3 separate regions of the Homo sapiens genome follow, and all the other regions are linked to region 3. The links come from fine-mapping of genetic effects on gene expression. A gene starts in region 3. Each other region holds a variant in brackets. All regions are shown on one strand. Distances are between the middles of the regions.

Region 1 (2,830 bases), 22 kb before region 3:
ATTTGTCTCATGTTTCCTCCTGACTACTTAGTCAGATATGTTTGGTGTAAACAGCTCAGAGGGCAAGCTGTGTCCTTTTCAGTGCATTACATCTGGAGGCTCCCGATGCTGGCCTGGCCTGATTTTGGTGAGGGGCCTGGATTTTCAGCTGGAAGGCCGGTGCGTGTTCTCGCCTCCTGGAGGCACCCCCAGCATGGAGGGAAGAGGGGAAGGAATGTGCATAGCTCCTCGGTGAATTAGTGTTAGCCACGGGAGGAGCACGGTCTCTGGGACTCTTCGATCCCCACAGACGACAACCAAAAACTCAGAAGGAAGTCCGTCCATCACAGCCTGAGATGCACTCTCCCAGTGCCTCTCCCTGGACCATTTCTCAGTGTGTCAAGGGCCCTGTCACCTCCATGAAGTCTTCATGATTCTCTTGGGCAGAAGCAGTTGCTCCCTCCTCTCTCCTTCTGCAACCCTTCGCCTCATTTTCCTGCTTGCTGCAATCTGTTAGAGTTCACTGTGAGGCTCTTACTGCCCCTGTATATCCAGGCCCAGTAGAGAAGCCCAGGCCCAGGGCCCAGCAGAGAAGCTTCTCCATAAATATTTGTCAAATAAATCGTAACTCAACTGAAATCAGTCTGCCTTGTGGTCAATTTTACATTTTATTTATTTATTTATTTACAGATAGAGTCTTACTCTGTCGCCAGGCTGGAGTGCAGTGGCGTGATCTCGGCTCACTACAACCTCTGACTCCCTGGTTCAAGCAATTCTCCTGCCTCAGCTTCCCAAGTAGCTGGGACTACAGGCATATGCCACCACACCCAGCTAATTTTTGTATTTTCAGTAGAGATGGGGTTTTACCATGTTGGCCAGGCTGGTGTCAATCTCCTGACCTCATGATTCACCCGCCTCGGCTTCCTAAAGTTCTGGGATTACAGGCATGAGCCACCACGCCTGGGCTTTTTTTGTTTTTTGAAACAGAGTATTGCTCTTGTTGCCCAGGTTGTAGTGCAATGGCGCGATCTCTGCTCACCGCAACCTCCACCTCCCAGGTTCAAGCGATTCTCCTGCCTCAGCCTCCCGAATAGCTGGGATTACAGGCATGCACCACCATACCAAGCTAATTTTGTATTTTTAGTAGAGATGGGGTTTCTCCATGTTGGTCAGGCTGGTCTCGAACTCCTGACCTCAGGTGATCCGCCCACCTTGGCCTCCTAAAGCGCTGGGATTACAGGTGTGAGCCACTGTGCCCGGCCTTATTTATTTATTTACTTACTTACTTATTTTTGAGACAGAGCCTCACTCTGTTACCCAGGTTGGTGTGCAGTGGTGTGATCTCAGCTCACTGCAACCTCTGCATCCTGGGTTCGAGCGATTGTCCTGCCTCCGCCTCCCAAATAGTTTGGACTACAGGCGCCCACCACCACACCCAGCTAATTTTTGTATTTTTAGTAGAGATGGGGTTTTACCATGTTGGTCAAGCTGGTCTCGAACTACTTTTTTCTTTTTCTTTTTGAGAGAGAGTCTCCCTCTGTCACTCAGGCTAGAGTAGAGTGGCAGAATCTTGGCTCACTGCAACTTCCACCTCCCAGGTTCAAGCAATTCTCCCACCTCAGCCTCCTGAGTAGCTGGGATTACAGGCACACACCAT[C/A]ATGCCCAGCTAATTTTTGTATTTTAGTAGAGACAGGGTTTCACCATGTTAGCTAGGCTGGTCTCAAACTCCTGACCACAAGCAATCCATGTGCCTTGGCCTCCCAAAGTATTGGGATTATAGGCATGAGCCATTGCACCTGGCCAATTTTACCATTTTTTAAAATTATTCTTTTAGAGACAGGGTCTCACTATTTCACCTAGGCTGGTCTCGAACTCCCAGCCTCAAGTGATCCTCCCAATTTGGTCCCCTAAGTAGCTGGGTTTACAGCCACCACTCCTGGCTCAGTTTCACATGTGAAAGAAAAGTCCGGGTGGGGCACGATGGCTCACGCCTGTAATGCCAGCACTTTGGGAGGCTGAGTCAGTGGGATCGCTTGAATCCAGGAGTTTGAGACTAACCTGGGCAACATGGTGAGACTGTCTCTACAAAACAATTCAAATAGCTGGGCGTGGTGGTGCATGCCCGTAGTCCCAGCTACTCAGGAAGCTGAAGTAGGAGGATCACTTGAGCCTGATAGGTAGAAGCTGCAGTCAGCCATGATTATACCACTATACTCCAGCCTGGTTGATAGAGGGAGACCCTGTCTCAAGAAAAAAAAGGAAAAGTCCTACATCCAAAACTGAATTGAGGCCGTGCGCAGTGGCTCACGCCTGTAATCCCAACACTTTGGGAGGCTGAAGTGGGCAGATCACTTGAGGTCAGGAGTTCGAGACCAGCCTGGCCAACATGGTGAAACCCCAGCTCTACTTAAATACAAAAATTAGTTGGTCATGATGGGGTGCACCTGTAATCCCAGCTACTCCAGAGGCTGAGGCACGAGAATCACTTGAACCTGGGAGGCGGAGGTTGTGTGAGCCAAGATTGCATCATTGCACTGCAGCCTGGATGACAGAGCAAGACTCCTTCTCAAAAATAAATAAATAAATAAAAATAATTATAAATATTAGAAAGGAAAAATTGAAAAAAATCCCCAGATAATGAGATTATATAGGTAGAAAACTGAAAATAATCTACACATAGATTAAAGTTAATAAATCAAGTAAGGTTGCCAGATGTAAGATCCCATACAGGTTCACTGAATTTCTATAAAACCGCAGTGTACAGTTAGGAGATATTATTTTAGAAATTAATAAAAAGTGTGAGATTTTTAGTAGAAAAATTATAACACTTTACTGAAAGATAATGAAGACC
Region 2 (2,500 bases), 30 kb before region 3:
CAGAAGTAGCATCCTGTCATGCAGGCTGGAGTGCAGTGGCGTGATCTTGGCTCACTGAAACCTCTGCCTCCCTGGCTCAAGCAATTCTCCTACCTCAGCCTCCCAAGTAGCTGGAATTACAGGTGCCCACCACCACGCCTGGCTAATGTTTGTATTTTTAGTAGAGACAGGGTTTCGCCATGTTGGCCAGGCTGGTTTCAAACTCCTGACCTCAAGTGATTCGCCCACGTCTCAGAGTGCTGGGATTACAGACGTGAGCCACTGCAACCGGCCTATTTTTTTTTATTGTATTGTACTGTTTTTTTGTTTTGTTTTGTTTGTTTTGAGACGGAGTCTCACTGTGTCACCCAGGCTGGAGTACAGTGGTGCAATCTCAGCTCACTGCAACCTCTGCCTTGTGGGTTCAAGCAATACTCCTGTCTCATCCTCCCGAGTAGCTGGGATTACAGGTGCCCACCACCACACTCGGCTAATTTTTGTATTTTTTTAGTAGAGACGGGTTTCACCATGTTGGCCAGACTGGTCTCAAACACCTGACCTTAGGTGATCTGCCCACCTCGACCTCCCAAAGTGCTAGGATTACAGGCCTGAGCCACTGCACCCGGCCTGTATCGTATTTTTATTTATTTATTTATTTATGAGATGGAGTCTTGCTCTGTCTCACCCAGGCTGGAGTGCAGAGGCGCGATCTCGGCTCACTGCATCCTCTGCCTTCCGGGTTCAAGTGATTCTCCTGTATCAGCCTCCCAAGTAGCTAGAACAACAGGCATGTGCCAAGACACCCGGCTAATTTTGTATTTTTAGTAGAGATGAGGGTTCACCATGTTGGCCAGGCTGGTCTCGAACTCCTGACCTCAGGTGATCCACCCACCTCAGCCTCCCAAAGTGCTGCGATTACAGGCATAAGCCACCACGCCTGTCCTATTTTTTTTTTTTTTTTTAAGACGGGGTCTCACTCTGTCACCCAGGCTGGAGTGCAGTGGTATAATCTCGGCTCACTGCAACCTCCACCTCCCAGGTTCACGTAATTCTTCTGCCTCAGCCTGCTGAGTAGCTGAGACTACAGGTGTGCACCACCACCACACCTGGCTAATTTTGGTATTTTCTGGAAGAGACGGGATTTCCCCGTGTTGGCCAGACTGGTCTCAAACTACTGGCCTCGAGTGATCTGCCTGCCTCTGCCTCCCAAAGTTCTGGGATTACAGGCGTGAACCACCACGCCCGGCCATATTTTTTTGTACTTTTAGTAGAGACAGGGTTTCACCATGTTGCCCAGGCTGGTCTCCAACCCCTGAGCTCAAGTGATCCAGCTGCCTCGGCCTCCCAAAGTGCTGGGATTACAGGCACGAGCTATGGCACCCAGCTAGTTATTACATCTTATGGCATTTGTTTGTTTGTTTGTTT[GTTTT/T]TAGACGGAGTCTTGCTCCGTCGCCCAGGCTGGAGTGCAATGGTGCAATCTTGGCTCACTGCACCCTCTGCCTCCCGGGTTCAAGCAATTCTCCTGTCTCAGCCTCCCAGGTAGCTGGGACTACAGGCGCATGCCACCATGCCCAGCTAATTTTTGTATTTTTAGTAGAGACAGAGTTTCACCTTATTGGTCAGGCTGGTCTCGAACTCCTGACCTCAGGTGATCCACCCCCACCTCGGCCTCCCAATGTTCTGGGATTACAGGCGTGAGCCACCACGCCCGGCTTCTTAGGGTGTTTTGTAGACACCTCCGTATCACCTCATGTGCGTCTCTCACAGCCGTGCAGCGGGTAGAGCTGGGCTTGCTGTCATCCTCCCATCTGAGATGAGGAAACCAAGGCTCCGAGAAGGGAGGTGGTGGAGCTGGGGCTTGAACCTCAGACTCCTTGTTCGAAGCCCATGCTGTTAACTTACATCTATGTATGGAGGAAAAGACGACAGGGGAGCCCAGTCGGGGGCGGTGGGGCGGGAGGGGTGGCGGTCTAAATTAACTAAAAGGGAGATTTTCTTTTTGAAGAGTGAGAAGAGACCCAGGAATGTCGGCCCCCCTGCCTCCCTGAGTGGGACGGTTGAGGAGGTTGGGCACATCCTAAAATGCAGGCTGGGTCTGTAACCTACCACAGCTCCACACTGCTCCCAGAGGAGTCCAGTGCCTTTGGCCTGGCAATCAAGGTCCCCTCACAAGAGGCAGCCTAGCCCAGTGGTTAAAAGCATGGGCTCGGCCAGGCGTGGTGGCTCACGCCTGTAATCCCAGCACTTTGGGAGGCCGAGTTGGGTGGATCAGGAGGTCAGGAGATTGAAACCATCCTGGCTAACATGGTGAAACCCCATCTCTACTAAAAATACAAAAAATTAGCCAGGAGTGGTGGCAGGCACCTGTAGTCCCAGCTACTCGGGAGGCTGAGGCAGGAGAATGGCGTGAACCCAGGAGGGAGAGGTCACAGTGAGCCAAGATTGCGCCTCTGCACTCCAGCCTGGGCAACAGAGCCAGACTCTGTCTCAAAAAAGAGTGTGGGCTCAGGACTGCAATCCC
Region 3 (2,500 bases):
TCTGCATGAGCTAAGTCATGAGAATGCTGGCCATCAGAGGCCCTTCCACACCACCCTGTGATGTGAATATTATCACTATGATTCTCATATCATATGTGACAAATATCTTCAGATAAGCAAATTTTATATATCCACCCAACAAACAATTCTTGAGGCCAAGGAGGTATCAGAGGGTGGCTTTTGTCTAAGGGCCTGCAATGAAGAAGAGGTGGAATGAGAGATGGTTCCCTGGTCTCCTGACCCACTCCAAGCTCTCCCTTCCTGGGGTCTGAGCTTCAGAAGCCACCTTAGAGTTCCTGGGTCCTATGAGAACCCCCATGGCTTTTGAAGCACTAGGGGCCTTGTGGTTCTAGGCCTCAGAGCAAACAGATTTGATGTGGGCTCCTGGGAGCAGCCCCCAACCTTTACCTGGCAAAAGAAGATGGGAAGCTCTGTGGTGTCTGGGGGACCAGTCTTCGCCCTACCTCCCGAAGTCATAGATGCAATCCAATGGCATGGGACCACCTCTCCTCTGAGTCCAGGGCCCAGCACAGCCTGGATGCAGAAGGAGAAGTTTCTTCCTCAGAAGATCCTGCAGGGTAGGAGTGTGTGCGGTGTGTTGGTTTAAGCACAATGGTCTGTGTTTAGATTTGCATGTGACCATGAGGTCACACTTTGGGGTTTTCTCTAATGAAGGTTCTGAGTAGGGAGAGGGGATGGGAGTCTAGTCCTTACCCTCCAGCAGAGTTAAGTCAATGCCCCTCTGCTCTCCCCCAAGCTCCCTGTCAGAGAGGTCTCCCAAGGAGGATCTTGGGGCATTTGAGGCCAGAGACTTAAGCAATTCAGAGAATTCTGGAGGCTGAAAAGCAGAGGAAAAGTCTTTTGGTTTTCCAAAGATCTCGGTGTGAATCCTAGATTTACCCATCTGGCTGTGGGATCTTGGGCAAGCATTGCAGCACTCTAAGCCTCAGTTTCCCTGGGTGTTAAATGGCTCCTTCTGTGCAGTTTTGGAGGGAAAAGATTCAAGAGAGACAATAGGTAGCATTAATACCCCAAGGAAGAGAGGTAGGCTCAGTCCGCAGAGCTGGGACAAAGACAAGTACAGGGGCGGGTCGAGAGGGTGCCCACATCAATTTCTACCAGGGCTGCTGCTGCTGTGAGGATGGCTGGCAGGGGCGTGGGCGACGTCGCCCGGCACACACTGGCGGCGGCAACTCTCGTAGCTGCGGGTGATCGGGGTCTGGGAGGGGCGGGCACAACCCGTACGGTGGAGCTGGCTGGGGCGCGAAGGGGCGGGCCCTCGGCTGGGCCGGGCGGAGCGCGGCGGCGGGAGGGGAGGTAGGCCGGGCAAGGCAAGCGGACGTGAGCTGCAGGCGGAAGACAGGTGGCGCCGCGGGCAGCTTGGCGAGAGGCGGGACTTCGGCGGCGCGGCGGGAGGCGGGGCAGGAAGGCGCGCGCGGCGCAGCAGCCTCGCCCGTCGCGGAGAGTGGGCTCTGCCCGCCGTCCCCCGGGGGCTGCTTCCCGCCCCAGGCCTCCGCGGAGGACACGTGTCAGCACGTTCCCGCGGTTGTCATTCCATTGTCATAGCCCTTCCCCTAGGCCGGGAACCCCTCCCCCCCACCAGCCCCAGTTCCTTTATCCCTGGGCCCAACCTCCCCGCCGACCCGCGGTCCAGGCCTCGGTCTCTCTCTTCGGCGGCGAGCCGCGGCCCAGACCCCGGCAGAGGACACTTGTCGGCACGTTCTCACCCCTGTCATCTCAGCCCCCTGCCTAGCTCCACCCCAGGCTTGGGAACCCGGCCCCTGACGGCCCATTGTCCGCGGGCCCAGCCCCCGCGCTGAACGCACGCTCGCCCTTGCCCCTAACCAGCGCGTCTACCCCGGCAACGCGCAGTGACCTGGGATGCAGCCCTCAGGCTGGGCGGCCGCCAGGGAGGCGGCGGGCCGCGACATGCTGGCCGCCGACCTCCGGTGCAGCCTCTTCGCCTCGGCCCTGCAGAGCTACAAGCGCGACTCGGTGCTGCGGCCCTTCCCCGCGTCCTACGCCCGCGGCGACTGTAAGGACTTTGAAGCCCTGGTGAGTGTGCTTTGTCCTGGCGCTGCCCACTGCGTCCTGGACCAAGTGCCCTGTGGAACCACAGGTAGAGGCAGTTCCATCCGCATTAGTAAACATGACAGCCGCCAGACTTTCCATTCCCAGCTTGGTCTTGCCTTGCCTTGGGGAAGGTTTCCATGAGCTAAGAACACTGCTAACACCCTCATGTCAACGCTCACTCCCAAGGCACTTGGTGGCTGCTTCTCTCCTGTCAATGACAAATGACTCCGAGGACTGAAGTGAGGAATAGTTGCATAGTCCTCCACAGATTTTCTAGCCTGGCCAGGAATAGGGTTGATGTGAATCAGCTGTTTTGCTTAGCTAGAAAGTTATCCATCCTTTTGCAAATAATTAGACACCAAAAAGTCACCAAAGCCGCCCAGACATTGGTCTTCAGATGAGGTGATCTATGGGCAGTACTTTTATA

What was found. PIP is the estimated chance that this variant, and not a neighbour inherited with it, causes the effect.
Region 1: its variant is the best candidate, but not a certain one, in a credible set for the expression of PARP16 in whole blood (INTERVAL, PIP 0.75).
Region 2: its variant is the best candidate, but not a certain one, in a credible set for the expression of PARP16 in whole blood (INTERVAL, PIP 0.58).

The regions. Positions count from the first base shown.
Region 1 is chr15:65,307,417-65,310,246 of GRCh38, reverse strand. No RefSeq gene overlaps it. Among named protein-coding and RNA genes, the nearest start is that of RNU5B-1, 4.2 kb to the right of the region's middle. The variant C/A (reference allele first, on the strand shown) is at 1,637.
Region 2 is chr15:65,315,922-65,318,421 of GRCh38, reverse strand. No RefSeq gene overlaps it. Among named protein-coding and RNA genes, the nearest start is that of RNU5B-1, 12 kb to the right of the region's middle. The variant GTTTT/T (reference allele first, on the strand shown) is at 1,405.
Region 3 is chr15:65,285,808-65,288,307 of GRCh38, reverse strand. PARP16 (poly(ADP-ribose) polymerase family member 16) reads left to right here and starts at 1,425. Exons shown (of 6, transcript NM_001316943.2): 1 at 1,425-2,055. The coding sequence starts at 1,882. RefSeq lists an enhancer at 981-1,030 and a silencer at 1,181-1,740.